Regions from separate parts of the Homo sapiens genome. Here region 2 is linked to region 1. Evidence: fine-mapped expression QTL. A gene starts in region 1. The other region holds a variant in brackets. All regions are shown on one strand. Distances are from middle to middle.

What was found. PIP is the estimated chance that this variant, and not a neighbour inherited with it, causes the effect.
Region 2: its variant is fine-mapped to the expression of TRIM65 in whole blood (INTERVAL, PIP 0.99).

The regions. Positions count from the first base shown.
Region 1 is chr17:75,892,575-75,901,011 of GRCh38, forward strand. It overlaps TRIM65 (tripartite motif containing 65), which reads right to left and starts at 4,377. Exons shown (of 6, transcript NM_173547.4): 1 at 3,950-4,377; 2 at 181-276. The coding sequence starts at 4,363. MRPL38 (mitochondrial ribosomal protein L38) reads right to left here. Exons shown (of 9, transcript NM_032478.4): 6 at 8,408-8,437; 7 at 6,942-7,100; 8 at 6,584-6,720; 9 at 6,070-6,412. The coding sequence ends at 6,276. RefSeq lists silencers at 3,647-4,216, 4,247-4,726 and enhancers at 4,094-4,803, 4,804-5,511.
Region 2 is chr17:75,845,831-75,861,000 of GRCh38, forward strand. WBP2 (WW domain binding protein 2) reads right to left here and starts at 9,505. Exons shown (of 8, transcript NM_012478.4): 1 at 9,409-9,505; 2 at 5,738-5,846; 3 at 3,774-3,909; 4 at 2,740-2,832; 5 at 1,966-2,100; 6 at 1,657-1,779; 7 at 1,078-1,154; 8 at 1-957. The coding sequence starts at 9,467. The coding sequence ends at 904. RefSeq lists enhancers at 9,591-9,720, 10,329-11,124 and a silencer at 10,091-10,260. The variant G/A (reference allele first, on the strand shown) is at 5,887.

The DNA.
Region 1 (8,437 bases):
CCTGCTGGGCTGAGGGTCAGGGATGTGGGGAGGCAGGGTCCCGGGAACCTCCCCAGGACCCCTGTGCCCAGCTCCCTGCTCAGCCCCGCTCCCTGCTGCCTGGTGTTCCAGGGACCAGCTGGTGGCCGCCCCAGGATGCAGTGTGAGGCCATGGTGGGCGGGCAGGCACAGGCCTCGTACCTGGATCTGGCTGCTTTGCTTGCGCAGCTCTAGTAGCTGGCCTTCGGCCTGGGTGGCCTGCTGCTGGGTAACCTCCAGGCTGGCTCTCAGCTGGGCCTGTGGTGCGGGCCCACGGGACAAGCAACAAGAGAAGGCCAGGATTGGCTGTGATGTCCTTTCTCAGACAACCAACCATGCCTGCAGACACCAGGCAGCCCCTCCCCACGCCACCCCAGGCCAGCCTCCAGAGCACCGGCCTCGGTCTAACCCAGGGAGAGTTGGGGCCGTGCCCCGGGGGGGTCCAGACAAAGTCCTTCCTAATCTGCAGCAGGGTGGTGCCTGAGCAGAGCGGAAGCCTTGGGCTCAGGACCCAACTTCCATTCCCATTTCTACCTCTTGCATGCTGAGCAAGCTGAGGCCAAGCACCTGTCCTCTCTGGGCCTAACCCCCCACCCATCAATACAGGAAAGCGATAATGCTGGCTCAGGAGGCCTCGCAGGGAGGACCCCAAACACTAAAGCCGTTGGTCCCTGTCTCACTGCAGAGGGGTCAGTGGCCCAGGAGGCCCTGGGGCTTGAGAAGCTGACTGCAGGGACCTCCCAAAGCACCAAAGCTGTCTGACAAGTGGGCAGTTACTTGCTGGATAAACTAGATTCTTCTGGGGATCCGGCCAGTCCCTGGCCCTAGTTTTGAGACTGAGAGGGGAGGAAGGGACCCCTATTCGGTTGCGCTCCCTGAGTCCCTTGGGAATCAAAACACCGTGCTCTCATGAGAGCAGGACAAACCACGCAGGTCCCAGGGGCTCCATTCCCAGCACCTGGTCAAAAGCTTCACCACCTTGTTTCTGCTCCTCCCGCAATGCACTGAGATGGGGACCATTACTATCCCCACATCACAGAGGAGGAAACGGGCTCAGAGAAGTTGATAATTTGGTCAAAGTCCTCAGATCTTCCTAAGCCCAGAGCTCCTCCGGGCCCCCAGCCTCCAGCATTTCACACAGGAACACAGGAGGCCGGAGGGCAGGCTCTCCCAGGGCACCCAACCCTCCCCCAGGGACAGGCACCCCCATGTCCCTTTCCCTCTCTCTTGCAAAATCCTGGCTCCCCTGGTGCTACTGGCTGCCCCTGTCGCTCCCTTCCTCCACATGGCCCTCATCTACCGGCCTCCAACTCAAACTTCCGTGCCTAGCTCAGTCTTCTGCACCCGCCCATGAGCAGTACATCTCGTCTCATCCTCCTCGGCGGCTTCAGCAGCTACAAGGAATGTCCCGCAACACTCTGGAGCCCTTTTCCTTCACCTCATCTCAGCCGCTCCTGTGAACTCACCCTGGCCCTGTCACCAGCTCTAAAATCTCCATTCTAGGCATCGATTCTTCCTTCTCTGACCACTGCCTTCGTGCCCTCTCCTGTTCCAGCCACCTCTGTCTCAGTCCTCCCACCTCACCGACCCCCAGCCGTGCACTCTCCCATCCCTCCCTGCCCATCAGGCCTCCTGGCCACCCCTTCCCTTCCTGTCCCATCCAGCGTCCCTGCGCCATCCTCCATCCACGCCTTAGCCCCAGGCCTCCTCTGTCCCCGAATGATTCCACATCCTGTCTTCGCTGCTGAAATGGGTTTTGTCAAGGGCACGGACCACCTCCACAGTACCGATGCTGAAGGTCATTTCTGTCCTCGTACTGAGCCTCTGATCAGCATGGGCATCCTGCCCGTTCTCTTCCTGGCACCCCTGTCTCCAGGTGCCACACAGGGCTGCCATTCCCCCGACCTTCCCCATCTCCCTGGGAGCTCCAGCTTGGAACCTTCTCTTCCTCCTAGCGCTAATGATTCCCAGCTCTCGACTTCCAGCTCCCCGCTCCTGAGCTTTGGAGCTCACAGCAAGCTCCGCCTCCCGGGTTCACGCCATTCTCCAGCCTCAGCCACCAGAGGAGCTGGGACTACAGGCGCCCGCCACCAGGCCTGGCTAATTTTTTGTATTTTTAGTAGAGACAGGGTTTCACCATGTTAGCCAGGATGGTCTCAATCTCCTGACCTCGTGATCCACCGGCCTCCGCCTCCCAAAGTGCTGGGATTACAGGCGTGAGCCACTGCACCCGGTGGTGGCCAGGCTGCGGGGGGTCCGGCCCCCTCCTGCTCCTGGCGGCAGCACCCACTTGAGGAGGTGACCCTCACTCATGGTGCACAAGCTGCAAACACAACAGCCCTTGGTCTGGCAGAAGAGCTCCAGCAGCTGCCCGGGGCGGGGTCAGCGCGCGGCAGGGCTGGGGCCAGGGTCCCAGGTGCCACAGGCCCGTCCCCTGGTTTGTCCCACTGGCCACTGTGACCTCTATATGTCCAAGGCCAAACTCTGCCCTCCACCTACGCCTCTCAGGACATAGCACCCCAGCCACCTGCGTGCTCAAGACAGAAACCCAGGTGTCTCCCTTGCCGCCCTCTCTGCTGTCCCCCGTGTCCCCTCTGGCCTGCTTTCGCCTCCACAAGGTACCACTTCCCCTCAGCGTTTCTCATCTCCTCCTCCATCTTGGTCTCCCTTCCCTGATCCCCAGCTGGTTCTTTGCCTCCCTGCACTCCTACCCGATTCGGGTCTTACATCCTGCCCCCTTCAGCCCCCAGCCAGGTGATCAGTCTCCATGAAGCCCAAATCTGATCATGTGCCAACCTGCTTCCAAGCCTATAATGGCCCCCATGACCCTACAGTAAGAGCCAGACTCCCCCAGGACCCTGCCCGATCCTGCCCCTGCTGACCCCCAGGGCCTGGCCCACAGATCTCAGTGGCACAAATCTGCCACTAGGGACCCCGCGTGCCCAGTTCTTTCCCATCCCAGAGACGGGACCAGGCTGATTCCTCTGCCTAGAATGCTCTTCCCCAGGTCTTTCTCCTGGCTTGCGCTTCCTCAATCCTCACATGCCAGCCTGAAGGCGGCCTCCCCTTCCTCCTCCTGGCCCGTTTAGCAGGGTCACCCCAACCCCTCTATCACATGCCATGTGCTTTCCTCACTGCATTTTGTAATAATACATTCACGCCTTACTGGAACACTGACTTCTTAAGTGGATTCTAAGTCTCTTAAGGGCAGGGAGCTCGTCTGATCCATTTACCAACAGCCCCCATAGCCCCCTCGCCCTCCACAACCCCGCACAGCGAATGAAAGGAGGCTCTCGGAGCGCAGGAGACACACGACGGTTCTCTAGCGCTTGGGCACGGAGCAGGGAGCTGCTGCCTCACGCCCAGGCTTTGTTCATCCAGAGGGCACCGAGCAGCTTCTGAGACCCACCCTGTGTCACTGGCCGGGCTGCATATCCCAGTCTGATGCACAGACCCACGATTTTTTGTTTGTTTATTTTCTGAGACGGAGTCTCGCTCTGTCGCCCAGACTGGAGTGCAGTGGCACGATCTCGGCTTACTGCAAGCTCCACTTCCCGGGTTCACGCCATTCTCCTGCCTCAGCCTCCCGAGTAGATGGGACTACAGGCGCCCGCCACCACGCCCGGCTAACTTTTTGTATTTTTAGTAGAGACCGGGTTTCACCGTGTTAGCCAGGATGGTCTCGATCTCCTGACCTCGTGATCCGCCCGCCTCGGCCTCCCAAAGTGCTGGGATTACAGTCGTGAGCCACTGCGCCTGGCAGACCCACGACTTTTATAATCAGCTCCCAGGTTGGGAGAAGCCCCTTACAGATGAGGCTCCCCGCCCCCGCCGGGTGCCCGAGAGAGCAGGGCGCGGCCCGCAGGAGTCACCCGGCGGTGGCCAGGCTGCGGCGGGTCCGGACCCCTCCCGCTCCCGGCGGATGCGTCACCTCGCGCTTGAGGCGCTCGGCATCCAGCAGCGCCCGCTCGTGGAGGCGACACTCGCGCACGGTGCACACGCTGCACACACAGCGGCCCTCGGTCCGGCAGAAGAGCTCCAGCGGCCGCCCGTGGCGGGGGCAGCGCGCGGCAGGGTCGGGGCCGGGGCCGGGATCGGGGCCGGGATCCCGGGCGGGCCCGGCGCGCACCACCTCCAGCACGCCGCTGAGGGCCACGTTGCGGCGCAGCTCGGCGCCGTCGGGAAAGGGCTCCCGGCACTCGGGGCACGCCTTTCCGCAGCGGTCCCACCAGTCCCGGATGCAGGCCCCGCAGAAGTTGTGGCCGCAGGGCAGCGTCACTGGGTCCTGGTAGAGCCCCAGGCAGATGGCGCAGGTCAGCTTCTCCTCCAGCAGCTGCGCGGCCATGGCCCGGCGGCGGCGAGAGCCAGGCGGGCCCCGGGCGTCTTAAAGGGACCGCGGGCCTCGCGCGCTGAGGGCGCCTGGGCGTGGCTAACGCGGGGCGGGGCGAGATCCGGGCGGGGCGGGGCGAGATCCGCGCCCGGGAAGGCGGAGGGGGGCGGCAGGCCCTTCTCTGACACCCTCGACGAGCGACCGCCGCAGGGGCCTAGGCCACCCCTGCCCACCTCGGCCTGGCCCGCTCGAAGGTTCCGCGTTCCCGCCTTGCGCCCCTCCCTCCGTTAGGGTCCACGCCACCCCGGCTGAGAGCTGAGTTCGGCTCTCTAGGGTCCCAGCCTGGCGGGTCCATCCCACCCCCCTGGGCCTTCAGCCCAGGTCCTGGAGACCAGAGGCTCGAAAACCCCGCCAGGACTCCGGGCTTCTGACCACGGGCCGCGCGGAACCTCTTCTGGACTCATCTGCCAGTCGCCTAACAGCATAGACCCCCACCCCCAACAATCCCCCGGGGCTTGGCGATGAAACGGGCTGGCGGGCTCCCTGCAGACCCGAGCACTGCTGCACTTTTTCCTGGAGCTGGGTTTCGGACACTTGCCAGACTGGGGTGTCTCCCTTCTCTGGGCTACACGTAATTTTGGTTCTTTTAAAGTAAACAGCGAGATGGAAATGTCTGGTCACCAAGAGACAGGGACCAGTTAACTGGTATTTTTCAAATGGCCCTGAATGAATACACAAACCAGCTTTCATCTGCAATCAGCATCCCCTCTTCCTGCTGCCCTCCGCTGGGGAGAGTTCCTTGCCTGGGGTCCAAGCTGATCTGCAGCCTCAGTATTTACAGGCACTCCAGCATTTCCCCTGAAGCTGAGCAGGCAAGGCGGGTCTGGGGCCTAGCGCCCACCTACCTGACAGTGTGTATCAGGCCAGGGGGAACCCCAGGAGAGTACGGCCTTTCTAACCAAGCTGGGCTGATGTTGAGGCGGCACGAGCTCTCACTGCTGCAGCAAGCACTGCGTCCTCTGTGCGGCCATAGACGAAGTTTCTTTCTGGACAAAGTGCACGGATCTACCCTCCACCTACTAGTTAGCCAGACTTCTGCTTTTGGTAAGGGAGAAACAAAACACCTAACCATCCAGCCGCAAGACTCCATGGGTTTTCTGACCCTGAGCAGGTCTCTTGAGACACGCTGTTGCCTACCTAATGTGGCTTCTCCTCCCAAGCATGGGGTGGGGGCTGGAGCCTGTGCAGAGGGTCAGTGCTCGGGCAGGCACTCTCTCTCCAGGGGCCGGTGGGACCCCCCTGAGGCACAGAGCCAGTGCTCAATAAATGCTCCTTCCTGAGCCCAGCTGCTCTGCTCCACTTTTTCGGGGAGCTGGGTTTCAGGAACCTGCTGGATTGGGATGTCTCCCTTCCCTGGGCCACACCTGTTTTTGGCCCACTGCCTGCTTTTGCTTCGGATCCCAGGGCCCCTGACACCCTCAGAAGACGGAGGTGAGGACGCACTTAGTGGGGTGGGAGGCAGCCCGTTTCCCACCCATGAAGCTCCATCGGGGTCCTCTGGCCCTGGAGCACCGACCCAGGCCAGCTATGGCAGAAATCCCTTTTTTTAAAAAATACAGGCAGGGTCTCATTATATTGCCAGCTGGTCTTGAACTCCTGGGCTCAAGCGACCCTCCCTTCTCAGCCTCCCAGTGTTGGAATTACAGGTGTGAGCCACCAAGCCCGGCAAGAAATCATGTTTATTCACATTCCCCACCCCACCACCTGAGAGTCACTTTCACTCCAAGCCCTGGGCCTGACGGGAGGGGGCCAAAGAGGGGGGCTGCCTAAGGCAGGGCCCAGACCCCACAGTGTGGGCCTCTGGAGCTGTGTCTTTACTCTTGCTGCCGATCAATCCCATGCTCTGAAATGCGCACACTCTGGCTCCTTAGTAGATGCCATAGGTGGGCTCATGACTGTCCCTGTACCGGTCCAGGTAGCGCAGGGGCTGCCGGTGGGGGAAGCGCTTCTGCTTGGGGTGGTAAGGGGGCGGCCGCACGAACTCAAACACCGGCTCCCGCATGTCTGCAAGAAGAGTGAGGGGTACGGGGTGGTCTGCTGGCCTGCGCCCCCTCAGGCTGAGGCCTGCCCACCAGGGACCTGCCGCAGCCTTCCCCTAACAAAGCTTCTCCCTGGCAGGGCAGGCGAGGCCTGGGAGCTCAGGCCCACCCAGTGCCCCAGCCCCATGGCCCTTACCCAGAAGCTGGTGGAAGATGTAGGTGACGGAGTCATCCCAGCGGCACTGGAAGAAGGACAAGCCGGCTGGAGTCATGGTTTCTTGGTGTTTCTTGTAGAAATCAAAAGTGCGGAAGGTCCGCTGGGCCAGCTGATAGCTATGAGAAGATAGAGAGCGTATGAGAGTGTGGAGTGGGGCACCAGAGCCCCTCACCCCGCCACCCCAACAGGTAACCCTGAGAGGCCCCTGGGAGTCTGCTAGCACCCTATCCTGCTCTTCTGCCAGTCTCAAGGCTGAGGTCAAGAGAGAACTGAGCAAGAGTGACCGTTCCAGGGGAGCTGGCCTGAGGCCGGGTTATGTGTGGGTGGTGTAGATTACCAGGGTGAGGGGCGTGCGTCCTCAGAGAAGTCAATCGGCTGGTCCTGCTTGAAGAGCAGGAAGGCAAGACGGTGGATGCCGGAGCCTCGGGCAGGGAAGGGGGGGAGGTAGGGACACGTCACCTGTCCTTCAGCCACCCGGTTACCCGGGATGTTGGTTCTGGGAGGAGGAAAGTCCCGGTTAATTACCACTCCAGGGAGGCAGCAGGAGTGTCCCCTCAGCTCCATGCACACCCTAGAGGCTGACATGACTCCCTGGGAGGACAGCTCTAAGCATCTCTCTCCTGGGACAGAGGAGGCAGCCAAGCTCTGTGAACGCCGGGACATGCTGCAAATACGGGAAGCGGGCTGGAGGAGCTCCGAGTGGGGGACAGGGCTCCAGAGAGCATCAGCTTGACAGCAAGGCCATGCAGCCGCTTCCAGGCCCCGGGAGCCGGTGGGTCCGCCACAGTCACTGAGGCTAGAAAGCCAGGCCACTTTTGGCTGCTTTTCCCTCTGCGTCCTGAAGTCTCCAGGACCTCGTCAGGGAGTGTGTGCCCAGCCTGGCACAGGGGCGGCCAACGCCTCAGGCACAAATCCCCAGAGGGTCCTGCCGCATAGGCTGGTAACAGTTGAATAAAAATGACGGAAACCAGCCTCCCAGTCACTGTCCCCAGTTAACCAGAAGGCTCAAAGTTGGGGTCACTGGCCTGACCTCTGCCCCCTGGCCTGGTGTTCAGAGCCAAAAGCTACCAAGATGGAAGGCCGCCCAGTCTGGGCCCAGGGAAGGAGCGCCCAGTGGTTCAAGGAGCACCTGGGGGACGCCACAGCTGCTAGGCCTCTCCCGCTCCTTCTCCCACGTGACTGTCACAGTCCACCTCACGCTGAGTAAGGCATGTGGTGCCATTATCCCAGTTTTACAGGTGAAGAAATGAGTTTAGAGACGAAGGGCCCAGGCATGGTGGCTCACGCTTATAATCCTAGCACTTTGGGAGGCGGAGGCGGGCAGATCGCTTGAGCTCAGGAGACCAGCCTGGGCAACATGGTGAAACCCTGTCTCTATAAAAAAATACAAAAATTAGCTGGGTGTAGTGGTTTGCACCTGTAGTCCCAGCTACTCAGGAGACTGAGGTGGGAAGAGCACCTGAGCCCAGGAGTTAGCGGCTGCAATTAGCCATGATTGCACCACTGTACTCCAGCCTGGGGGACAGAGTGAGACCCTGTCTCAAAAAAAAAAAAAAAAAAGAAAAGAAAAGATGAGGAGGCTTGTGGGGACTGACCGAGGCCTACTGCAAACTTTGTCTCCTGTAGCTGTCTTCAAGTAGACACGTGGATCCCAGGGCCCCTAACACCCTCAGGAGGCAGAGGTGGCAGGTGAATTCAAGGTCCCATGGGTAGTCCATGAAACTCAGGAGCAGCTCAGTCCAGGCTCCCAGCTCCTCTTCCCGCCTGGGCAGCACCCCCTACCCCCAGTACTCCAGTACTCACAGCAGCCAGTGGAGGTACTCAGCATCTGGC
Region 2 (15,170 bases), 43 kb before region 1:
CCTCACTTCATGGCCAGTCCAGGGACAAACAAGAGTGAATGTTAGCGCATCCAGGGGCACAAAGCTTAAGGGGAAGAAGCAGGCTGGGGGGCTGGTGGCAGGTCCCGGCCAGCACACAGGGTCAGGGGCCCTTGTTCCCGGCCCCACCCAGCAGCCACCAAGTGGACAGACATGCATTCTCTGGTTCCAGTCAGGAAGCTCCTTCTAGAAGGAAGTGAGAGGTGAGGGAAAGCAAATTCCAGAAACACCAGCAAAAGGCAGAAGGGCTTCCTCCCAGCCTCGGCGGCCCTGCCCCGACGCCACCCAAGCCCTGGAAGCTCATTTTACAGCTTCAAAAGTCACACAGGGTGGCAACAACATGACCCAGGACAGGGAAGGGAAGGAAGGGTGGCGGGGGCTGCAGCTGGACCCTGGCTGAGTGGAATGCGGGCGCGGTGGCCTTCTGAGACCAGCACAGACCAGCAGAGGGAATGTGAGCAGGGTCTGGCAGGGCCCGGGAAGACACCTGGCTGGTCTGAAGTGGCTCATGAGGCTGAGTGTAGCAGTGGGTGCCAGACTGAGGGAGCTGGACTGCGGTGGAGGAGGTGGCCAGAGAGTCCCTTCGAGGGGAGAAGCTGAGAGTGAAACAGGAACAGGGGATGCTCCGTGCTCCCAGAAGAGCCCCAGACGGTGAGGGAGGTACGCTGGGCAGCACTGTGGGCTCCGGGCTGGCATGGGAAGCTGGGCGGCACCTCTCCCGAGGCCGGGGGCCCTAATGTCCCACAATGCTAGTTCCTGGTAATTGTTTATGATCAGACCTGGAGGGAGAACAAGGCGCCCCCTCCCCTCCCCAAGCCCCAGCACAGCCCCGATGGGAGGGGTAGGGTAGAGAGATGAGGGTGGGAGGCAGGGAGGCAGGAGGGCCTACTGGGTCTTCTTATCTTCCGGTGGGTAGTAGGGAGGTGGCGGCGGCTGGCTCTAAAGAAGGGAGAAAGGAGAGACTTGCATTAGAAGGTTTAAAACATGGTGCGGTCATCCCCCTGCGGCTCCCAGCATCTGCGGCTGTGGGGCTGCACCGGCACTGCCAAGCCCTCTCACCGTGGGCATGTAGACGTTGTGAGGATTGCCTGGGTTGTAATAGGCGCTGGCGGCTGCTTCTGCGGCCTTGGCTTCGGCTGTGAGAGCAAACACACCTGGTGTCGGTGACAAGTTCTCCTCCCCCTGAGCTCAGCTAAGAGACCCCGGGCCCCCATGGCTCGGGGCAGCTGGTGCTGGGGGTCCAGTTCCACCAATGAGAGCAGCAGGTGAGGTTTCCTGAGCACATGCCACGCGCTGGCACGGTCCTTTCCAGGCCCATCGCATGTCTCACCTCATCTAATCCTTGAGCCAATGCCCCAGGTGCCACTGTGACCGACCAGCTGAGTGTAGATGAGAGGATCGAGAGGCACACAGGGTGACCTTCCCCGCCCAGGGCACATGGATAGCTAAGGGATGGGGGTGGGGCCAGAATCTAGCTCCGCTCCACCAGGCCACAGCCCTGCTGGGCCCCTGGGGTAGTCCAGGGGTCATCCATCATCTGCGGCTCTCAGCAGTCTCTGGCCATTCTGAGGCTCTCTGTGCGACATCGGGGAGGAGAGGGCTGGTCCCGAAGGGCTGCCAGCACCCAAGGGCCCTCACCTGCAGGAGTGGAGGGGACATCGGGGCCGCTGACCGGAGGTTCCATGGGCCCAGGGTAGGGCGGTGGTGGGGGCTGCACGTATCCCATGGCCCCGTCCATCATGGGGGGTCCTGGATAGAACTCTGCTCGGTGAGAGAGTAACAAGGACATGGTGAGCACCCGGCTGCGGCCCCCTCCCGGGTGAGGGGGGCCTCTCCAGCTCCTTCGTTGGTCCTGAAGCAGCTCAAGGAATAAAGTCTCCCTGGCCTGGGGGGAGCCTGGGTAGGTGGGCTCATGAGGGGAGTGGGGGCAGCAAAGGACACACTCACCAGGTGGGGGCGGTGGATAGGGGTAGCCAGGAGGGCAGGGGTACATTCCATTGGCGACTGGCGGGGGATAGACATAGGCCCCGCTGGGCATGTAAGAGTAGCCATAGGCTCCACTGGGGACTTCACCTCTGGAGGCTACGAGTACAAGGGGAAAGAGAAATGAGCGTGGCCTGCCTTGGGGCGGGGAGAGGGCAGCCCCGCTGCCTGCAGATGGGAGCTACTGGGTCTCAGGAATGTGCCCCGCAGACATCCTCTGTCCATCCCACTCCACCCTCCACCCATACTCGGGGGGCCACCTTGGTCAGGGATGAGAGAGGACGGGAGAGGTCAGAGCCAGGGGAAGGCAAGGGAGGTCAAGGGCAAGGCTGGAGGGTGGACAGAGGCCGGGAGGGAGGCTCAGGGCTGGGGTAGGAGTGAGCTGGCGGAGGATGTCTGCTGGCCCATCCCTCGGTCATTTTCAATGGCTGCGGAACCGCAGTCGAATGGTTGGTTTAGTGTTTGTTTTATGAGGCCATAGTAAAGTGTCCTTGAGTCCAAACAGCTTTGTCAAAACGTCATCCACCTGCCCCAGGCAGGGAAACGCAGTCTCTGAGGTACAGGACAGAGCTGATGCCAATGACAGCTTTCCTTCCCAACTCCTAGGCCTGGTCAGCCTGGTGCCCAAACACTTACCTCTTGAGTTCTTGAAAAAGCAAAACGAAAAGGAAGCAAACTCATACCAAACCCCTACATGTTTAGTGTGTCTTTAGCCCCTAATCTTCGGAGCCTGGATACCTTGAGATGCCACCTGGAGCATCCGCTGTCCGAACTCAATGGCGCCCCCTGCCGTGAAAGTCAACTTGTAGGAAGCAGAGCCTTCCCAGCCACCTGAAAGGGGAAGGACAGTGAATAAACAGCACAGGAAAAGAAAACTTATGCCCAAAGAGATGGCTGTTTTCCTCTCCAGGACTTCATCCAACGCCCGGGAGGCCTGCGGGGGCTGGGCCTGCACTGTGATGGGGACTTCCTGGTGCCATGGTTTCCAGCCTGCTGCCTGCATAGGAGCCAGCACTGCAGCCTGGCCTGGCCCTGCTGTACTCGCTTCCCCCTTTGGAACAATGGCCTCTCCTTCCTGGAACAAGCCTGTCCTCCCACCCTTGGCCCAATATGTACACGGGTGCCAAGGCCACATCAAGGTTTCTCTCCGCCCCCAGTCAAGCACTCGGCAGCTTCACAGGAACAAGCCCACTCAGCAACAGCCGACCTTAAAATTCAGAGCAGACCTCTCGTCCTAAGGGGGCCCAAGGACAGACTCCGGCCCCTCTAGCCTGGCTTCTGCCCAAAGGGGGACCAAGAGTGTCTCAATAGCAAGGGCGGGCCTGGCTGGGTGTCAAGGGGAAGGCAAGTTCAATGCAGAGGTCTCTGGGGCCTGCCAAAAAGCCAGCCCCAAAGCAGGGTGACTCTGGCTTCCCAGAGGCAGCTGCCTCTTCCTGGCTCTCATGAAAAGGCCCCTCTCAAGAACCTGATGCAGCTCCTTCCTGAGTCTAAAATTTGTATGCGCTCGCCAAGTTGCACTAAGCATCTTGACTCAGTCCGCAGGCTTCTGCAGACTTCACGCTCTGAAAAGCTGATCTGAGCTGCTGTCTTTCATGCCAGCATTTTCCCCACCTCTTGGCAATCAAACCCCACCAGCTGGCAGCCCAGAGCTGGGAAGAGGTCATGGCTAGGGCGATAAGGGTCTGAAGGGGACGCCCCCACGGCGGCAGTCAGAGGTTCCCAGGACACCTCCCTGCAGGCCCCATGCGTGTCCCTGAGTTCCCATCACCTACCTCCCGCTTCCGCCTTCACTGTTCCCTTGATGTAGTTTGCACCAAATACGGGCTGCTTGATCTCACAGTCTTTCATGAGATAAAATGGCATCATGAAGGACTGCATGGCATCCTTGCCCTTGGACAGAAAGATGACCTGCAGGGAGAGAGGGTGAGGCCATCAGTACTAGAAGCACAGCCCACGCTGCCATGCTTCCCGCCTGCTTCCTGGGAGTGACGAATCCTCTCCCAGTGCCAGGGTCCAGCAGCCCCATGGCTCTCTCTGTGCCAGACACTCCTGGAGAGAGCTTTGGAAAGGGAAAGGGCTCACCGCAGCCTGGAGAGGCCAAGCTCACGCACACGGGAGAAAAACGTGCTGGTCACAGATAGTATCTATGAGCAGGGCAGACTGCTTTGTCACTGACGTGGTGGGGTGGTGGCAGTGTTGCCTAAGTGAAGGGGCCTACGAAGCTAGGGAAGGACAGGCAGAGGCAAGGCAGGGATGGGTTCCTGAAAGAGGGGGGTCTCCAGCCTGAACTCTCCAGAACTGAGAATGATGGTGCAGTAGGTCGCTAGCTCCCATTGAGGGGGGCTATAAACAGCAACAAGAGCTCTCCTGGAGCCTGTGCCTGGAGAAACCCTTGGGTTTTATTTTTTCTTTTCTTTTCTTTTTTTTTTTTTGAGATGGAGTCTTACTCTGTTGCCTGGGCTGGAGTGCAGTGGCGCGATCTTGGCTCGCTGCAAGCTCCGCCTCCCGGGTTCACGCCATTCTCCTGCCTCAGCCTCCTGAGTAGCTGGGACTACAGGTGCCCGCCACCATGCCCGGCTAATTTTTTGTAGTTTTAGGAGAGATGGGGTTTCACCGTGTTAGCCAGGATGGTCTCGATCTCCTGACCTCATGATCCGCCCGCCTCGGCCTCCCAAAGTGCTGGGATTACAGGCATGAGCCACCGCACCCGGCCCCAGCCAGGGTTTTAAACCCACGACTTTTATCTGTGACTGAAGGTGCCAAGTTGAGCCTCCAGAGATGGGGTTTTGAGACTCTCCTGTCTTTGTGAAGTCATGGAGATTAAAACTTGAAAATGTGCTCCTCTTCTTCCAGCTGTCTTTGAGTCTAAGTCTTTTTTTTTTAGGCAGGGTCTCACTCTGTTGCCCAGGCTAGAATCCAGTGGCATGATCCCAGCTCACTGCAGCCTCAACCTCTCCAGGCTCCAGTTATTCTCCACCTTACCTCTCGGGTAGCTGAGACTAGAGGCATGTGCCACCACACCCAGCTAATTTTTGTATTTTTTGTAGAGATGGGGTTTTGCCATGTTGCCCAGGCTGGTCTCGAACTCCTGAGTTCAAGTGGCCTGCCTACCTTGGCCTCCCAGAGTGCTGGGATTACAGGCATGAGCCTCCGCACCAGCCTGTCTTTGAGTCTAAATCTTGAGTAGCCACAGGCAGCAATCCTTTTCCAAGAACATCCATTTGTATTTCTCAACCTCTCAGAGTCCACGTGGGTAACTCTCAGGCAGGGCCCATTCTGCAGCCTGGCATTTGTCATTCTGCGGGGTGGTACCGGGCTCTCTGCCCAGTCCGGAGGCCGTGCCATGCAACTGTACCCTGTTTACTGGATTTCTCACTCTGGATACACACAGGGCTTCATGGGCTACTCTCACAGAAAACAAAATATTAATAATAATAGTCTGGCCTCCAGGCCCAAGTCATGCCAGCGGCTGCATCCAACTCTATAGAGATTTTGCAGCAGCGGCTCTGGAATTGACATGGGTTCACTGCCCAGTGGTCAGGTCAGTTACACAAAGAGCCTGGTGATTCTGGAATCCAGGAGCATGTGACAGAGAAACAGGCAGAGTGAAGCACTAACACTCACCAGGATTCAGAGGCCACCTGACTCATGAGGCTGAGGCAGACCTGAGACTAAGACTCACGTCACCTCCAACAGCAACAAGCCTCTCAACCAACTGCCCTGCTGTGCAACTCACCCGGTAAGGGGTAAGGTAGACAGTGCCTTTCTTGGTCCCTTTGAAGGCTTCTGGCACGTTCTTCATGTCATTGAATGTGAGTTCCACGTGATCATAGGACATTAGGATGCTGTGATGAGAAAAGAGGAAAAGCCTCAATGAGACAGTAT[G/A]GAGACGCGACGTCACCCAGACACTGGGCCTTTCTCCCAAGCAGCTGCCCGGCACGTCAGCTCTCATAACCTCTCAATAGTGCGGCATTAAAACTATTCATAGGGCTGGGCGCGGTGGCTCACGCCCGTAATCCCAGCACTTTGGGAGGCCGAGGCGAGCGGATGACCCCTGGTCAGGAGTTTGAGACCAGCCTGGCCAACATGGTGAAACCCCATCTCTACTAAAAATACAAAAAAATTAGCCAGGCACCGTGGCGGGCACCTGTAATCCCAGCTAGTCAGGAGGCTGAGGCGGGAGAATCGCTTGAACCCAGGAGGCAGAGGTTGCAGTGAGCTGAGATGGCGCCACTGAACTCCAGCCTGGGCAACAAGAGAGAAGCTCTGTCTCAAAAACAAATAAATAAATAAAGCCATTCATAGGGCCAGGCGCAGTGGCCCACACCTGTAATCCCAGCACTTTGGGAGGCTGAGGCGGGTGAATCGCTTGAGCCTAGGAGTTTGAGACCAGCCTGGGCAACATGGTGAGACCTCATCTCTACAAAAAAACTAAAAACCAACAAAAAAACCCATTAATATAGCCATGGAAGAAATGAGCAGGTTGGGGGTTCTGTAAAATTTCCCAAACCCCGCTTATAAAGCCCCCAAATGATCAACATGGTAGCAGAGCTACAGGGCTCTGAAGAGGCCATCATCCCTCAAGCAAGTTAGATAATCTGGCTTAACTCTTCTATTTTCTTTATTTTTTTTTTTTTTTTTTGAGACGGAGTCTCACTCTGTCACCCAGGCTGGCGTGCAGTGGCGTGATCTCGGCTCACTGCAAGCTCCGCCTCCTGGGTTCATGCCATTCTCCTGCCTCAGTCTCCCAAGTAGCTGGGACTACAGGCGCCCGCCACCACGACTGGCTAATTTTTTGTATTTTTAGTAGAGACGGGGTTTCACCGTGTTAGCCAGGATGGTCTCGATCTCCTGACTTCGTGATCCACCTGCCTCGGCCTCCCAAAGTGCAGGGATTACAGGCGTGAGCCACTGCGCCCGGCCAACTCTTCTATTTTCTTTTAAGTCCTTGTGATAGATGTTCTGTTTTTGCTGGTTTGTTTTTCAAGCCTAAAATATAAACATGTCTAAGAGATGACTGTACAGATCACAATAGGACGTCCTTCGGGGTTCTTTTAAACCTGGGTTCTTAAGCGGGGTTTGCAGGAAAGTCCATGAAGCCCTTGAGATGATCACGTATGTCATATGTGCATTTTTCTGGGAGGAGAGTCCACAGCTTTCATCATTGTCAAAGGAGTTCACGACTTGAAGAGTAACGTTCACTATTTTAATTATAATTTTTTATTTTTTTGAGACGGAGTTTCACTCTTGTTGCCCAGGCTGCAGTGCAACATAGCGTGATCTCAGCTCACTGCAACCTCCACCTCCTGCGTTCAAGCGATTCTCCTGTCTCAGCCTTCCAAGTAGCTGGGATTACAGGCATGCGCCACCACGCCTGGCTAATTTTTTGTGTTTAGTAGAGACGAGGTTTTACCATGTTGGTCAGGCGGGTTTCAAACTCCTGACCTCAAGTGATCCACCCACCTCAGCCTCCCAAAGTGCTGGGATTACAGGCGTGAGCCACCATGCCCAGCCTAATTATCAAATTTTGGACACTGGACTTAACACTTCAATTGTTATAGATACAACTTTTTCAGACAGCAGGCTGAAGCACTTTCTAAAACAGCAGGCTGAAGGCACACCTTACTTAGCAGGACTGAGCCCTAAGCCAGGTAGAAGGCCGAGCAGGATAGATACATTCTTGTCTCAGAAAGTTCCACAGAGACAGAAAGAAAAACAGTCCCCAGAGATGTTGCCAAATGGCACGAAAAGCTGGCCAGGCCTGGGAACTGACTCACACACAGAGATGCAACAAAACAGTGTGAGGTGTCTCTGATTACATGATAAAAAGGTTCACACGGTTCTGTTTGTCTTCTGCCTCCCCCCATATATCACAACTTTCTCTGACTGGGGAAGGGTAAGTGGGAAACAACTGGTATAAGCAAAGGAAAATGGCTGGGCGCGGTGGCTCACTCCTGTAATCCCAATACTTTGGGAGGCCGAGGAGGGTGGATCACGAGGTCAGGAGTTCGAGACCAGCCTGCCCAACATGGTGAAACCCTATGTCTACTAAAAATACAAAAAATTAGCTGGGTGTAGTGGCGGGTGCCTGTAATGCCAACTACTGGGGAGGCTGAGGCAGGATAATCGCTTGAACCCAGGAGGCGGAGGTTGCAGTGAGCTGAGATCGTGCCACTGCACTCCAGCCTGGGCGACAGAGCAAGCCTCCATCTAAAAAAAAAAAAAAAAAAAAAAAAAAAAGAGAAGAGAAGTACTGCTCAGAGAAAAGAAGGAATTACCAGCAACAGGCTGGGCCCATGAAACTCTGAGCGGGTAAGATAGAGGGAAAGTGAGCATGCTGGGTCACTCTAGGCATTTTCCTCTGACTCATCAAACATTCCCAAGTCACAGGGCAGCTGGATGCTGGCCTTAGCTGGGTACAGGGCTCTGACTCCACGATGTCTCCTTTGGGGACTCAGGTGCCTCCTAAGCTCCTTCTGCCTTCAAGAGGCAATTCAGGGTCGGCATAGTTCAACCCAGGGCTGGCTGGTCTGATTTTCAATACCCAAGGAACAAAAGGAGACAGAGGCCATTTAAGGCTTCTCTTGGCAGAGACTGGAGGAGAGACAGGATGCAATGAGCAAGGGGTGGGGAGGATGGAGTGGAAAGAACCTTGAATTAGGAGAGCTCTGCCTTCCGAGGTGACCCAAACCAACAGGCATTCAAGAGAGAGGCAAGGGAATGACTACGGACCCACACAGTGCCAGGAACTGTTAGACACCTGACAAACGTCATCTGTTTAATTTCACCTCTGGGACCTCAGTTTTTTACCGGGAACCTGAACAGTTCTGGAACATACTGGAAGCCTGTATGCTGGTGGTTAATCCTATTAACTTTGGAGTCAAGACTCCTTTCCTGGAATTACCACCTCTGTTACTTACACAGTTGCGATCTCGGGCAAGTTACTTAACCTTTCTGCCCTCCACTTTCCCTACCTGTGAAATGTGGACAGTAGTAGATTATACTGCACAGAATTTATTAAATAAGGTAGAAAAGGCGCAGAGCCTGACACGTAGTAACGTTGTAGACATCCAATAAGTGACAATTATTTTTGTTTGGGGCTCCTCCCAGCTACTGAAATCACAAGTCTGGGAAGGGGTTCAAGAATCACCCCTAGGCCCCACCGGGGGCCCCATACCAGGTCCCCATGCAGACGTCCCACCCCCGCCTCCCAGCTGATCACAACCTCCCGGGCTCTCCCCCACGGCCCACCCACCTTCCTCCAACCCCGCCCCCAGCCGTTCCCCACCAACCTCACTCCATCAGTGCTCCCTCTTCAGGGGCTTATTCCCCACCACCCACCACCCACCGCCCACTTCCTCGACACCCGAACTTTGGTCCTCCAGGATCCTTCCGCAGTGTTTTCACCTCTCGGTGTTATTGACGATCACTCCGCCGCCCTCCGAGTGATTCTTGTTGAGCGCCATAGTCTCTCCAACAGGGGTCCCGAGACTCAAAACGCAATGAGCTTGCGCCCCTCTTCGCCCCGCCCCTAGTGGCGTCTTCTTATTAGAGTCAGCCAATCAAAGCTCGAGTGCGGAGGCTGGCCCAAACACCTGACCCGAACGTCACGTGGTAATAGTTTACTCCCTCCTTCCAGTTCCTCCTGCGCAACAAACAAGATGAAGACTACAATTCCCAGCAGGCAACGCCCCCGCAGCCTCGGCCTGTCCCTATGCTGGAGGAAGGATGCATTCTGGAACTTGTAGTCTCCTGGATCATAGGCCTGAATTGGTTCCACATTTTGCGTAACCAATCGGCTTGTGCCATCCCCACCCCGCCTCTTCAGCCGGACGGAAATAAACAGTTCCGCTCCTGGCAGGGGCGCGATCTTGGGGACTCCGGCAGCGCGTTAAGGGAAGTCCTGCTGGTCGAATGCGACCTGGACATGGCGTGGGAGCGCCGAGCTGTCCCCTTGTGGATGGGGAGCTTTCGTTCACTCAGCAGACGTTTATGGGGCGCATGCGTGACTCTGGGGCGTTTAGCTGAGCCGGAGGCCCCGGCTCTTGGGGACGCGGTGGGCTGGCGGCGTCGGATCACCCCGCCATCCATCTCACCACTCCCAGCGCTGAGCCCGGGGGGCGGGGAGAGTCCCTCATGGGAAGGGGAGGCCGTGTGCCCCGCCTGGCTCCCACCACGTTCGCAGGCCGGCCGGGCGCCCCTCGCAGCCCCCTCTCCGGCCTCGCGGTGGCGCCGCTCCCCCCTTAGCGCCCAGCGGGGTCCCGGCCGGAAGACTGAAGGCTGAGTGGGACTGGGCACGGCGCGAAACCGGCATCCTGATAACTAGGATTTACAGAATAAGGCTGACTCCTGTCAGCTCGTGACCCAGCCCTGGGCGTCCTCCACGGGGCAGCTGTCATTCCCTAACCGCCCCCCACCAAACCCCTGCACCTCCGAGCTGAATCCGTGAGGCGGAGAGAGGGGGCTGCACTTCCCACGTGGTAGTTCCGGTACTCGTTAATGTTAAGGAATTAGAGTTTGCTTTTCAGTAGACAGCTGCTTTCCTGACTGTGGTGGCCAACCTCTAGATCCACCTGCTTGACTTCGCTTTCCAGGGAGGTCTCCTATGTGAAGAAACAAAGCTGCCTCACTAGAAAAGATCAGGAAACAGCAGCGTTCTGTGAGGTCCTGTGCAATACCAGGTTGGACCTTGCGGGACAAGTACAGTGGGTTAAGGATAGTCATAATGAAATCTGCCCCAATGGTTAGATGTATTTTGGCGCCTGCAATCTCTGCAGTCTTTAAAAAGAATTAAGTCAGACTATGTGCTGATATGGGAAGATCATCAAGGGTTATTAAGCACAGAATGCTGTATACATATAGTTGTATTTGTATAAAAAATAGGATCTAGATAGAAAATTTTTGCAAAGATCCATCAGAAAATGTCTGTGGCATTTTTGAGACATGGGTCTAGGAATTTGGGGTGGATTGGTGACTCGGTATGTCAGTATGCATTGTACTCTTTGGTACTGTTTAATTTTTTTTTCCTATGTGCGTTTAAAATATAAATTTAGGCCGGGCGCGTGGCTCACGCCTGTAATCCCAGCACTCTGGGAGGCCGAGGCGGGCGGATCACGAGGTCAGGAGATCGAGACCATCCTGGCTAACAGAGTGAAACCCCTTATTAAAAATACAAAAAAAAAAAAAAAATTAGCCGGACGTGGTGGCGGGCGGCTGTAGTCCCAGCTACTTGGGAGGCTGAGGCAGGAGAATGGCGTGAACCCGGGAGGCAGAGCTTGCAGTGATCTGAGATTGCGCCACTGCACTCCAGCCTGGGTGACAGAGTGAGACTCCATCTCAAAATAAAATAAAATAAAAATAAATAAATAATATGTAAATTTAAAAAAGAAAAGCAGGCCGGGGTTTGTGGCTCACGCCAAAGGCGTGAGCCAAATTCCAGCACTTTGGGAGGCCAAGGCAGGTGGATCACCTGAGGTCAGGAGTTCAAGACCAGCCTGGCCAACATGGTGAAACTCCATCTCTACTAAAAATACAAAAATTAGCCGGGCATGGTGGCGGGCACCTGTAATCCCAGCTACTCGGGAGGCTGAGGCAGGAGAATCGCTTGAACCTGGGAGGCAGATGTTACAGTGAGCCAAGATCATGCCACTGCATTCCAGCCTAGGCGACAGAGCAAGACTCCATCTCAGAAAAAAGAAAAAGAAAAGCAAAATCCAGGCCTGGTGCCGTGCCTGTAATCCCAGCACTTTGGGAGGCCAAGGTGGGTGGATCACTTGAGGCCAGGAGTTTGAGACCAGCCTGGACTACATGGCAAAATCCCATCTCTATAAAAATACAAAAATTAGGCCGGGCGCGGTGGCTCACACCTGTAATCCCAGCACTTTGGGAGGCCAAGGTCGGCGGATTACCTGAGGTCAGGAGTTCAAGACCAGCTGGCTAACATGGAGAAACCCCGTTTCTACTAAAAAATACCAAAAACTAGCCGGGTGTGGTGTTGTGCGCCTGTAAGCGCCTGTAATCCGCGCGCCTGTAATCCCAACTACTCGGGAGGCTGCGGCAGGAGAATCCCTTGAACCTGGGAGGTGGAGGTTGCAGTGAGCCGAGATCACGCCATTGCACTCCAGCTTGGGCAACAAGAGCAAAACTCCATCCCAAAAAAAAAAAAAAAAACGCAAAAATACAAAAATTAGTTGTGCATGGTGGCGTGGTTCCTGTAATCCCAGCTAATAGGGAGGCTGAGACATGAGAATTGTTTGAACCTGAGAGGCGAAGGTTTCAGTGAGCCAAGATCGTCCCAGTGCACTCCAGCCTGGGCAACAAAGGAAGATTCTGTCTCAAAGAAAAGAAAAAGAAAAAAAGGAAAATCCCCCCAGCAAAGAGCAGGCAGCATTGGCTGCTCTAAGGACCATAAATGGGAAGATGGGGACAACCTGCCCACCCCTCTCCCACCCCTTTGCCAAATACGTTGGAGACAGGAGCAAGTTCAGGTTTTGCCAGGCCTTGAAGCTTATACAATTTTGGAGGCTGTCTTGGTTGTTTATGTTTTTGTTTTTTGAGACAGGGTCTCATTCTGTCACCCAGGTGCGATCATAGCTCACTGCTTCCTTGGAACTCCTGGACTCAAGTGATCTGGAGGCTCTTTTTAAGAAATAAAATACACAGGCCGGGCGCAGTGGCTCATGCCTGTAATCCCAGCACTTTGGGAGGCTGAGGAAGGTGGATCACCTGAGGTCAGGAATTTGAGACCAGCCTGGCCAACGTGGTGAAACCCCGTCTTTACTAAAAATACAAAAAATTAGCTGGGTGTGGTAGCGGTCACCTGTAATCCCAGCTACTCGGGAGGCTGAGGCAGGAGAATCGCTTGAACCCTGGAGACGGAGGTTGCAGTGAGCTGAGATCAAGCCACTGCACTCCAGCCTGGGCAACGAGAGGAAAGCTCTAACTCAAAAAAAAAAAACAACCCCACAATTATTCATTCACAATACTGTGGCTACAGTGAGGCCTCCTGACAGGAGGGGAAATGACAAGAAGAGGAAGTTGCAGTGCAGAGATAACAAGCTTGACCAGCTCCGGCTACAATGTCCAGAATTTCTAAGTTTTACAAAAACATATGACCATGTGAACACACTTCCTGGGCGGCTCCCATGACTTTGGGGCTGGAACGTACCAGAACTCAAAACTCAAACCGAAGACTTCAACAATGGTTTATTGCTGAACCAGGTGAGCAGCAGGAGGCTCCCCTGGGCCCAGGTCTCAGTACTCAGACCTCTCCTCTGGCCTCATACTCCTGTCTGCCTGTCTCCAGATCTCTTTTTCACTGCAGTATGATGCTCATATTCTCCACACTGGAGCACATCTTAGCGGTGCGCTAAGGAGGAGTGCAGGTTGGCCTCAGATACCAGCAGGCAAGGTCTGGGGCAGCTGAGCCCCTGAACTGGTCACCTGTTTTTTCTGTTTATAATTTTATTTATTATTTATGTATTTATTTTTGATACAGGGTCTTGCCCGTCTCCTGGGGTGGAGTGCATTGACATGATCTCTGCTCACTGCAGCCTCCGCCTCCCGGGTTCAAGCAATTCTCATGCCTCAGCCTCCAGAGTAGCTGGGACTACAGAATCGTGCCACCACGCCCAGCTAATCTTTGTATTTTTAGTAGAGATGGGGTTTCACCATGTTGGCCAAGCTGGTCTCAAATTCCTGACCTCAAGTCATCCGCCCACCTAACACTCCCGAAAGTGTTAGGATTACAGGTATGAGCCACCGCCCCCGCCTGGTCGCCTCTTGACTCCCAATAAGATGAATCTGTTTGCCCCAGTGAGCCAAATAAATACCATTTTCACTGAACAAATCATTTTCTGTGTGTGCCATGACATAAAAGAGGTTGGCAGGCCCGTAGAGGTGGCTCATGCCTGTAATCCCAGCATTTTGGAAGACTGAGGCAGGAGGATTGCTTCAGCCCAGGAGTTTAAGACCATCCTGGGCAACATAGTGAGACCCTCCCTCTAAAAATTTAAAAAAAAAAAAAAAAAAAAAGGTTGGCAGCATTTACCAAACGGTGGCTGTTTTTCCTTACCTTGACCCACAGTAAAAATATATAGGGCTTGAGCCCAGGAGTTTGAGACCAGCCTGGGTGACAGAGCGAGACCCTGTCTTACATTGTCACTCAGGCTGGAGTGGTGCAGTCATGGCTTACTGCACCTTCAACCTCCCGGGCTCAAGCAATCTTTTTACGTCAGCCTCCTAAGTAGCTGGGACTACAAGTGCACATCACCATGCCTGGCTAGTTTAAAAAATTTTTTTGGTAGAGATGGGGTTCCATTATGTTGCCCAGGATGGTCTTGAACTCCTGGCATCAAGCAGTGGTCCTGCCTCAGCCTCCCAAGTAGCTGAGAGTACAGGCCCTGCCACCACCACATGCTGCTTAATTTGTATTTTGTAGTGGGATATATTCTGAAATTTTCTGTTTTATTTTGTCATCTTAAAAAATTGCTGCAAGCAGCCGGGCGCAGTTGCTGACGCCTGTAAATCCAGCACTTTGGGAGGCCGAGGCAGGCAGATCACGAGGTCAGGAGATCAAGACCATCCTGGCTAACACGGTGAAACCCTGTCTCTACTAAAAAAAAAAAATACAAAAAAATTAGCCGGGTGTGGTGGTGAGCACCTGTAGTCCCAGCTACTCAGGAGGCTGAGGCAGGAGAATGGCGTGAACCCAGGAGGCGGAGCTTGCAGTGAGCAGAGATCGAGCCACTGCACTCCAGTCTCGGCGACAGAGTGAGACTCCGTCTCAAAAAAAAAAAAAAAAATTGCTGAAAGGGCCGGGCTCGGTGGCTCGCACCTCTAATCCCAGCACTTTGGGAAGCCGAGGCGGGCAGATCACCTGAGTCAGGAGTTCAAGACCAGCCTGGCCAACATGGTGAAACCCCGTCTCTACTAAAACTACAAAATTAGCCGGGCATGGTGGCGCAAGCCTGTAATCCCAGCTACTCGGGAGGCTGAGGCAGGAGAATAGCTGGAATCTGGAAGACGGAGGTTGCAGTGAGCCGAGATGGCGCCATTGCACTCCAGCCTGGGCAAAAAGAGTGAAACTCAAAAAAAAAAAAAGTGCTGCCGGCGTGGTGGCTCACGGCGGACACTTGAGGTCAGGAGTTTGAGACCAGCCTGGCCAACAT